2 separate regions of the Homo sapiens genome follow, and region 2 is reported to be linked to region 1. Evidence: microRNA targets listed by miRTarBase, many of them from high-throughput screens and not tested one by one. Region 1 holds a microRNA gene; the other region holds the end of a gene's coding sequence.
What was found. Region 1 holds the annotated microRNA hsa-miR-4449 (CGUCCCGGGGCUGCGCGAGGCA, at 2,722-2,743, opposite strand). A microRNA usually pairs through its seed, bases 2 to 8, with sites in the 3' UTR of a target mRNA and lowers its output. Matches are read on the target gene's strand: a 7mer-m8 pairs with bases 2 to 8, a 7mer-A1 pairs with bases 2 to 7 and ends in A, and an 8mer does both.

Region 2: miRTarBase lists C6orf141 as a target of hsa-miR-4449. The part of its 3' UTR that is shown has no 7-base or 8-base seed match.

The regions. Positions count from the first base shown.
Region 1 is chr4:52,711,074-52,715,462 of GRCh38, reverse strand. It overlaps MIR4449 (microRNA 4449), which reads right to left and starts at 2,781; the gene lies at 2,716-2,781. It overlaps DANCR (differentiation antagonizing non-protein coding RNA), which reads right to left and starts at 3,069. Exons shown (of 5, transcript NR_145129.1): 1 at 2,936-3,069; 2 at 2,504-2,639; 3 at 1,921-1,969; 4 at 1,225-1,264. It overlaps SNORA26 (small nucleolar RNA, H/ACA box 26), which reads right to left and starts at 2,214; the gene lies at 2,093-2,214. RefSeq lists an enhancer at 2,386-2,435 and silencers at 2,686-3,255, 2,430-3,263.
Region 2 is chr6:49,551,021-49,555,409 of GRCh38, forward strand. C6orf141 (chromosome 6 open reading frame 141) reads left to right here. Exons shown (of 1, transcript NM_001145652.2): 1 at 1-1,075. The coding sequence ends at 507. Among named protein-coding and RNA genes, the nearest start is that of C6orf141, 2.5 kb to the left of the region's middle. RefSeq lists enhancers at 363-432, 449-968.

The sequences.
Region 1 (4,389 bases):
CTGCTTCTCCAAACCTTTAAACACAACTATCCTCAGGGCCTTTGCACTAGTTTTCCCTCTGCCTAGAATGCTCTTCCCTCAACTATAGATAAGGCCATGGCATCTCCCTCAGCTCTTTCATGTTGAGTGAGGCCTCCCTTGCCGGCCATGTTAAGTCATCTCCCTTTCCTTACCCCCTTAGCAATTATAGCCAGCTAACACATTAGTTGAATGTATTTTTTGTACTAGTCTGTTCTCACATTGCTATAAAGAACTGAGACTGGGTAATTTATAAAGAAAAGGTTTGTCTCATGGTTCAGCAGGCTGCACAGGGAGCATGGCTGCTGAGGCTTCAGGAAACTTACAATCATGGGGTATGTCTAACAGGAAGCACATGGCCAGAGTAGGAGGAAGGGGAGGTGCCACACTTTTAATCTAAACTCTGCCATTCTTCTGCCTCTGCCTTGAGATAACATGTGCACAATTGCATAACCTTTATTTTTATTAATTTTTCTTTTCAGGCTGGAGCACGGTGACAAGATCATGGCTCAGTGCAGTCTCAACCTCTTGGGCTCAAGCAATCCTTCTGCCTCATTTTTTGTAGAGACGAGGTCTTACTATGTTGCCCAAGATAGTCTTAACTCCTGACCTCAAGTGATCCCCCTGCCTTGGCCTTCCCAAGTGCTGGGATTACAGGCATGAGCCACTGCCCCAGCCACACTACACATCTAAACAACCAGATCTCATGAGAACTCACTATCACAAGGAACAGCAAGAGGGAAATCCACCCTTTTCATCCAATCACGTCCCACCAGGCCCCTCCTCTAACATCGGGATTACAATTCAACATTATCCAAACTTGTGAGCAATTACCTAAATTTATGAGGCTAGACTTTACAATATGGAACATAAAAGTTTAGATAAAAAGGTAAGAACAATGCTATGAATTAAGAATGACTCCAAGATAAATATTAATACTTGCTACATAGACACACACAAAAAAACAGAATATGCTGACAGATACTCCTTCTGTGCCAAATTTTGTGAACCTTCTTAGGCTCAATGCAATGAAATAATATGAAGAGTTTATATTCTTAACAGCTCGACTGTGGTCCTTTCCTAGTTTGGTTGAAATAATTCTTAACTGTTACACCAGGACACCAAATCTCAAGAGACAAGTGACTTTCCAGAAGTCACATTGCCTAAAAGTTATACATGTGAAGCCTCTCATTCAGAGATACTCACAGGTGATGAAACTTGAGTTATCACTAATCCATTTCTTTACCTGTGAAATGGGAGAATAGAATCTGTAAGGTTAGCCGAGAGAAAAGACAAGAGACCCAAGGTCAGGCCAAGTAAGTTTATTAACCTGCCAGGCTTCTCCACCAGTCGGAGGTGGCAGCCCTGAGCTTACAAAATGAGGGGTTTATATGGGGGAGAGAGACCCTGGGGTTGTTAGTCAATTAACTTTACCACATATAATCTCATGACCGGCTTACAATATATTATCTTGTGAAAATAGGAATTTACAAGGGGGTGTAATCCACGTTTCTCATGACCTCCCCCGTGCCACCCAGAGGGCTTCGGTGTAGCAAGTCTGGTGACCTTGCTATAGCGCCTAGATAACGGTTCAGGAATGCAGCTGCAGAGTATTCAGGGTAAGGGTCAGCTGCATTGAGTTAGCGGGGGCGGAGTGGTCCTGGGGCAGCCTGTCCCTAACAGAATCCACCTCCGAGTTGTGACAATTAAATGAAAAGGTTGAAAAGGTGAACATGAAGCACCTGCTACACTGCCCTGTTGCCACCAGCATTGTCACTGCTCTAGCTCCTGTGGCACTGCACGGACACGTGGTTGCTACAAGTTAGTACGCATATTTGGCCTTATTAGAGGCACTTTCCTATTGTAACTGAAGGGATAGTTGGCTTAAGTCAATTGAAATACCAGCAACAGGACATTCCAGCTTCAATGGCTTGTGCCTGTAGTTGTCAACCTATAGAAAGAAAAGTTTTAAAATGACGTTTTAACCAAAGAAAACTGAAATGTATTGCTTGTTCTATAAACTGTAAAGAAAATCACAAAGGCGCTCAAGTTGTAACGAAACTTTTTCTGGTTCAGTTGTGACTCCAGACAGGATCCAAAGAGGAGCTTTCCAGTCTCTTCTCTGGGTTTTATGGAGACTTACTTTACCCTTCTGTGTTAGCCTCTTAAAGCACTGGGTCAACCTTAAAAGGGCACAGGAAAGGGTGCTTTGTGATTTTTTTTCTTTGATTTTTACAGGGTTCACTACTATTTTCCGCGTTGCTCTCAATACCTCGTGGATCTCTGCTTCTCTAAGTCTGAAACCACACTAGAAACACAGCTGTTTTGTTTGGTGAGCCCCTACATGGATGTTTCCTTCCAGTTAAGGGGAGCCGGATTCGGACCTTGGCGACAAACAGACGCCGGGGAACCCTCCGGTCCCACTGGCCACGTGCTCCAGGCTGACTCATTCCTTCCCCCACCCCGCTCAAGGCTAGGAACATACCTGCGCTAAGAACTGAGGCAGCTGCACTTCCGCAGACGTAAGAGACGAACTCCTGGAGCTCAAGGTCGGCTGGGGTTGGGTTCCTGTCCCGCACGCGTGGCCCGCCCGAAACCCGCTACATAGTGGCGCGTCAGCCCTGGGGAAGCAAAGCGCAAAATTGTTACGGTGCCCAGACCTGCGCCGGGAACCTCCGGCTGTTCCGCTGGGCGCGGCGCCTGTGCCTCGCGCAGCCCCGGGACGGGCACCGCCGCCCGCCCCCCGGGCCGCCGAGGGCTGCTCTACCCCTCCGTTCTGGCCGCCGGGAGCAGAGGAGCTCGAGGCGGGCAAAGCTCGTGGGGACACCGGGCGAGCCCAGCCCCTGATCGGACCCACGGGCCGGCCGGGCGCCCTCCCCGCGGGAGACCGAAAGCCGAAGACTGGAGATGCACTCACCGCGCAACTCCAGCTGACAAAGAGGCCTGCGACCTGCGACGGGCGCACAAACCAGAGAGGCGGCGCGGGGCGGGGAGGGAAGCAGGAGGGTCGCGAGGCCCGCAGCCAATCCCGGGAAGACTCTGGGCAAGGGCGGGGCGCGCAGCCGATCCCCTGGAGAGGTCGGGTAGCTCAGCCAATCCCGGGAAGATCCTGAGCGGGGCGGGGTGGAGGGCCGCGGCACGCACAGCCAATCCCGGATGGGGCGGGACGGGCCCGGCCATTGGCTGTCGGTGTCCGGGGCCGGCCTAGGTGTGGCTCATGCAGTAGCACGGGGATAAGCCATGTCTGCGCGCGGAGCATCCTTCTCTGAATTAGATTTTTCAGGCTACCTACCAATCCCCGGCGTTGGTGATTTTGGTGCTCTTGGGCCCTAGACCCTTCCTCGGGTGCCCTTCTGGAGAGGGCATCGAGGTTACTCCAGGGTTGGCCTAAGGCCCTGGGATTCCCTTTCTTAAAGCCACACTAATCCGGTGTGTGTTCATCATCTGTGTCCGCCTAAACCGTAAGCTTAAAGAGAAGCCACGACCATGTCTTGTTCAACAAGCTCACTCCCGTGGCCTCTCCTAAAGCTAGAAGGACTACCTCCTTTCCTCATGCTCCCTCTTTATTCATTTACAGAGTCCAATAAGTAGACCATAATCAGCTGGAGGGTAGGAGTTGGGGAGGTTGAGAAGGCAACCATAGCAATCTCAAGGTAACAGGCTCAAACTTGGCAAACAAATAAGTAGAAGAAAATTGGAGTATATGCTAAAAGGAGAACTTCTATTGCTGTTTCACGTACTTACCATCTGCTAACAAATCTAATCCTCAAAATATATTTAATCATCTCCAAATTATAGATGGGGAAATAATTATGTTATGTAACTTGCCCAAAGTCACAGAGCAGCTAGCCAGTGGTAGATCCAGGATTTGAACTCAAGCAGCCTGAAGGCAGAGCCCCTCAAACAACATGCTACCTAGCCTTTCCCCAGGTGTTGGGGGTGGAGCAGGAAGGGAAACCAAAAAATAGCCTACACTTGGTTAACAGATCAAGACAGGCAGCTCTGGTGGGGTGTGGCTTTGTAAACAGAAAGAACAACTCGTCCAGAGCCCCAAGATAAAACAGGAAAGGGCTTTACCTGTTTAAGGACTCCCAGAAATGGAACTTAAGGAGCAGAGTGGCCTGAGATGAGAATGGCTTGGGGCCAGACCATGCAGGAAACCCTGGAAGAGTTTTTTTGTTTTGTTTTGTTTTTGAGATGGAGTCTCGCTCTGTTGCCCAGACTGGAGTATAGTGGCACGATCTTGGCTCACTGCAGCCTCCACCTCCCAAGTTCAAACTATTCTCGTCTCGGCCTCCCGGGTAGTTGGGATTACAGGCATGCACCACCATGCCTGGTTAATTTTTGTATTTGTGAAAGAGTTTATACTTT
Region 2 (4,389 bases), not on the chromosome of region 1:
GAGGAATTGGACCGTGAGTCCTGGGTCAGAGAGAAAGTGCTCTTTCTCCTGCACCCAGAGAGGTGGTTAGGGACTCGAGGGGACCCTGCACGGGAAGAGGTGGCCGGTGCAGAGGACCTTCCTCATGCGGGTGGAGAGGACCACGGCGAGGAGCCCAACTACCCTTCTGTCTTTCAACGACAAAAGCGAATTTCTGGCAGGCGTGTAGCCCCGCCGCGGGACGCAGCAGACCCACCCAAATACGTGCTTGTGCGGGTGGAGGATTATCAGGTAACACAAGAAGTGTTGCAGACCTCCTGGGCCAAGGGTCGCATGACCACGAGGACTGAGGAGCACTTCGTGACCGCGCTCACTTTTCGCAGCAGTAGAGAGGGACAGCCTGGGGAACGCTGGGGCCCTGCTGAATCCCGGGCTCTCCAGGCACGAACAGGGGCATCCCGCGTCCACGCCGCGGGGAGGAGGGTTTCACCGTCTCCAGGGACTTGGCTCGAGGAAATTAAACTCTAATGAGTAGCTCGAGAAATGTTCCGGGATGGTGGATGAGCGATCATCCTTAAAAGAAAATGCTATTCTGGGAGCTCCAACCTGCAATTAACCTACAGAAGGAACCTTTTGAGAGGCTGGTGCAGCGCTTCGGGGAGGCAGATTAAGAACTGTAAGCAGCATAATACCTCCTTTGTGGCTTGAATTCCTTCGCTGTCTGGGGACCTAAGTCATTCAGAAGAGGTGGAGAAAAGATATTTTCAGATTGGCAGAATGTGGGAGTTTTGAAATGAGAAAACCTGTTGTTAATTTGCATTTTGGAATAACTCTCAATTGATCTCTTTTCTGTTCCCCGCCCCCCTCTTGTTTCTCTTTAGGACCTAGAAACAGAAGTGAAGTTTGAAGTCTGCTCTCTGCAAAGAGGGTGGGAGTGGGTGGAGAAGAGGCTTGTTTTAAAAGCCAAAAACAGAAAGTAAAAAGAAATGGGAAAGTAAAACCAAAGCAGCAAGTGACTCTCTTCTGATGTGCACTTTTCATTTTTCTCCCCCACATTTCAGTGTTAGAAAGAAAACGAGAGGAGCTAGGGAAAGAAGGAGTTGGGGACAGAAGACTAAGATTTCAACGTGAAATTCCATTTACAAAGGCTTTACTGCAAACAATAGCTAATTTAGTCCTGTAAACATGCATTTATCATACATTTTAATTTTAATATTAAAAATACTGCATGTAAATGTTCTGAACTAAAGGTAGATAGCAATATGTAGTTTGCCATAAAATGAATGCATGTCTTATTCTTTTCCATAGTTCTTCATTAATGAGACTTGTAGTCAAGAATAGATTGAAGATACCATTCTCCTTGTGTAGTTCAAAAAAATCTCCTCTGGTAATACTGAAACAACTAATTTTTCTTATTTTGTTTGTTCCTCTTTATTATTAAATACTATGTGAATTAACTCTTTAGTAGTTGGCCTGGTTGAAGCTCTGTGAGGAGCAAAGCAGCCCTCTCCAGGTGAACTGCTTGACTTTACCACCTGAAGGAGTATTTACTGCAAGAATTAACAAAGCAGGTAGGACTCTGGCTTTTGATGAGCAAATAGTTGAAAAGTGCCTCCTTCCCCAGTCTTCCCTTTTGCCTTCATTTTTAGTTTAGAGCTTGAAGTGTTCTCAAAAGATCATCTGATCTACCTCTTGCCTCCTGGCAGGCCAGATAGATAAGATGCCCCTGTTTTACTCATGAGCCAACCTAGGCCTAGAGGTCTTGTAGCATGTCTAAGTCACACAGCTAGTAATTGCATATGCTTACTAAGTGGATGAAGAATGTGATAATCTCCCTCCTAAAGGTTTGGGGCAGCCTTTAGAGGATTTATTTGACCCTTACTTAGGGGTCAAAAGATGCCTGAGGATATCCTAGGTTTTCTTTCTTTTTCTATTTTTTTCTTTTTTTTGAGACAGAGTTTCTCTCTTGTTGCCCAGACTGCAGTGCAACGGCACGATCTTGGCTCACCACAACCTCTACCTCCAGGGTTCAAGCGATGCTCCTACCTCAGCCTCCTCAGTAGCTGGGATTACAGGCATGTGCCATCACCCCGGCTAATTCTGTATTTTTAGTAGAGATGGGGTTTCTCCATGTTGGCCAGGCTGGTCTTGAACTCCCAACCTCAGGTGATCCTCCTGCCTCCGCCTCCCAAAGTGCTGGGATTACAGGTATGAGCCACCATGCCTGGCCAATATCTTAGGTTTTCTAACTCATGTTTATGAGAAGTACTAGAATCACCTTAATGTTCCTGAATTCTGCAAGGCCTCTTGGCTGGAGAATCATCACTAGCAGTTCTTAGGCCTGTGAGACCCTCACTTGGGAGAGGAATTCAGCATCTGAGCTCATCTGTGTTCAAAATTGCTTGACAGGTAGAAAAGATTCATCCCTTAAAATGAATCTCTTTTCCTTAACAACCCTCCCTGACTCCAGTGGGAGATTAACTTACTTGGCATGTAAGTTTCAGACCTGAGCTTATTAATTTGGTTGAATCATCACATGTCCCAGGTGACTAATCATTGAATATAGAGAACAAAAAAAGTCTCTTTCACAATAACCAAAAATGGTAAGTAGCATCACTCAGCTGCCTTCTCTGGAGGCAATTTCTGGCGTTCAGCTGCTTGGGTTCAAAACTGGCTCTACCTCTTTATTAACTTGTGTCCTTGGGCAAGTTGCCTTATCTCTGTGTGCCTCTGTATCCTGATTTGTTAAGTGGGGACAATAAATAGTATCAACTTCATAGAGGGTTTTTTTTTTTTAGGGTTAAGTTAAATGAAAATACTTAGAACCCTGCCTGTCATACAATAAATCCTCAAAGTTAGTTACATTTTTTATTATTAGCACGGTTATTGTTTAGTTCACTTTTCATCCTAACTAGGCTTTAGTCTTTTGTTTAGTAACAAAAAGCAGAAATTGTATAACACAAGAAAGCTAATGAAAGTCAAGCCGGTGGTTTTTAATAAGACTCTTCTCTACTCCTGAAAGAAAGGACTTATTTCTAGCTTTTCCTAACCTTTAATGGATCAGTAAGTATATTTCTTAAATTCTTTAGAAATGACCTTCACATCTTCTGTAGGGACTCATGGTAAAGCTCAAAGGACTAAGGTACACTATCCTTAACAGTCACTGAAAAGAGTTTACATACCTCCTAGTTCTGGGCAGATGGGAGCTTTGAATACTTTCTTTGACCTGTCAGGTTAGTTTGTTTTCCCTCTGGGATTTTAAATCTGATGCCCTGTTGTCTAGAAAAGCAGAATAGACACAATTTGTTTTCATTTTGTCTTTCAGCCAAAAACGTATTTAGTCAAGTTAGCTTAACTCCTTTAAACCAAATATGTTTGAGTTAATTTTGTTTTGTTTTTGAGACAGAGTCTTGCTCTGTCGCCCAGGCTGGAGTGCAGTGGCACGATCTCTGCTCACTCCAAGCTCCGCCTCCCATGTTCACACCATTCTCCTGCCTCAGCCTCCTGAGTAGCTGGGACTACATGCGCCCGCCACCATGCCTGGCTAGTTTTTTTGTATTTTTAGTAGAGACGGGGTTTCACCGTGTTAGCCAGGATGATCTCGATCTCCTTGACCTTGTGATGCGCCCGCCTCGGCCTCCCAAAGTGGTGGGATTACAGGCCTGAGCCACCATGCCCGGCCTGTTTGAGTTAATTTTAAGTGATTTTTTTTTTCCTTTTCTCACTGTTTCAAGCAATGAAAATTTATTTTTAAAGTGCTTACTCAACTTCCCTATTAACTGCCTAGAACATGTTTATAGATTTCATTTAATATAGAGTTCCTTTTCATTGGAAACAAAAAGTAGTAAGTCCAAATACTGTTGAATTTGCTTCACAGGTGTTCCTGATCCAAGCAGAACCCTGTTATTTGAAGAGCCTGAGAAATCTTATCCCGTTTACAAATGTCCTGGGAGTGCATCCAAAGTGAAACTTGGGCATCCTCAATACTAAGAAATCTCTGAGAATGACTGGATCTTGGCTCTTTGATCTTACCTCTACTCCTCTGAAAAACATGATTATCTAAAATTGTGTTAGGTGGATGAACCGCATCAAAGACTTCCAGAAGCCACTCCAGTGACCATAAGATAAATGTCAGAATCGCATAACCCCCAGGATCAGGCAAGTGTTATCCTCTCTTAAAACTCTTTGTTTACAACCATGATCTCCTTTTGGGAATCATTACATTTGACTTACTGCTTATTTTTGTTGGATGTTACCAGTGCTTGGTGATAAAACTTGATGTGGCTCTTTGCTTTGAAAAAGAAAAAAACTTTTTATTAAAAGAAACAGTTGTATACACTGCATAAAAATTGGGAAAATATTATGAAGAAAAAGAAGATATAATAAAGGAAACAAAAATTTACAGATGAC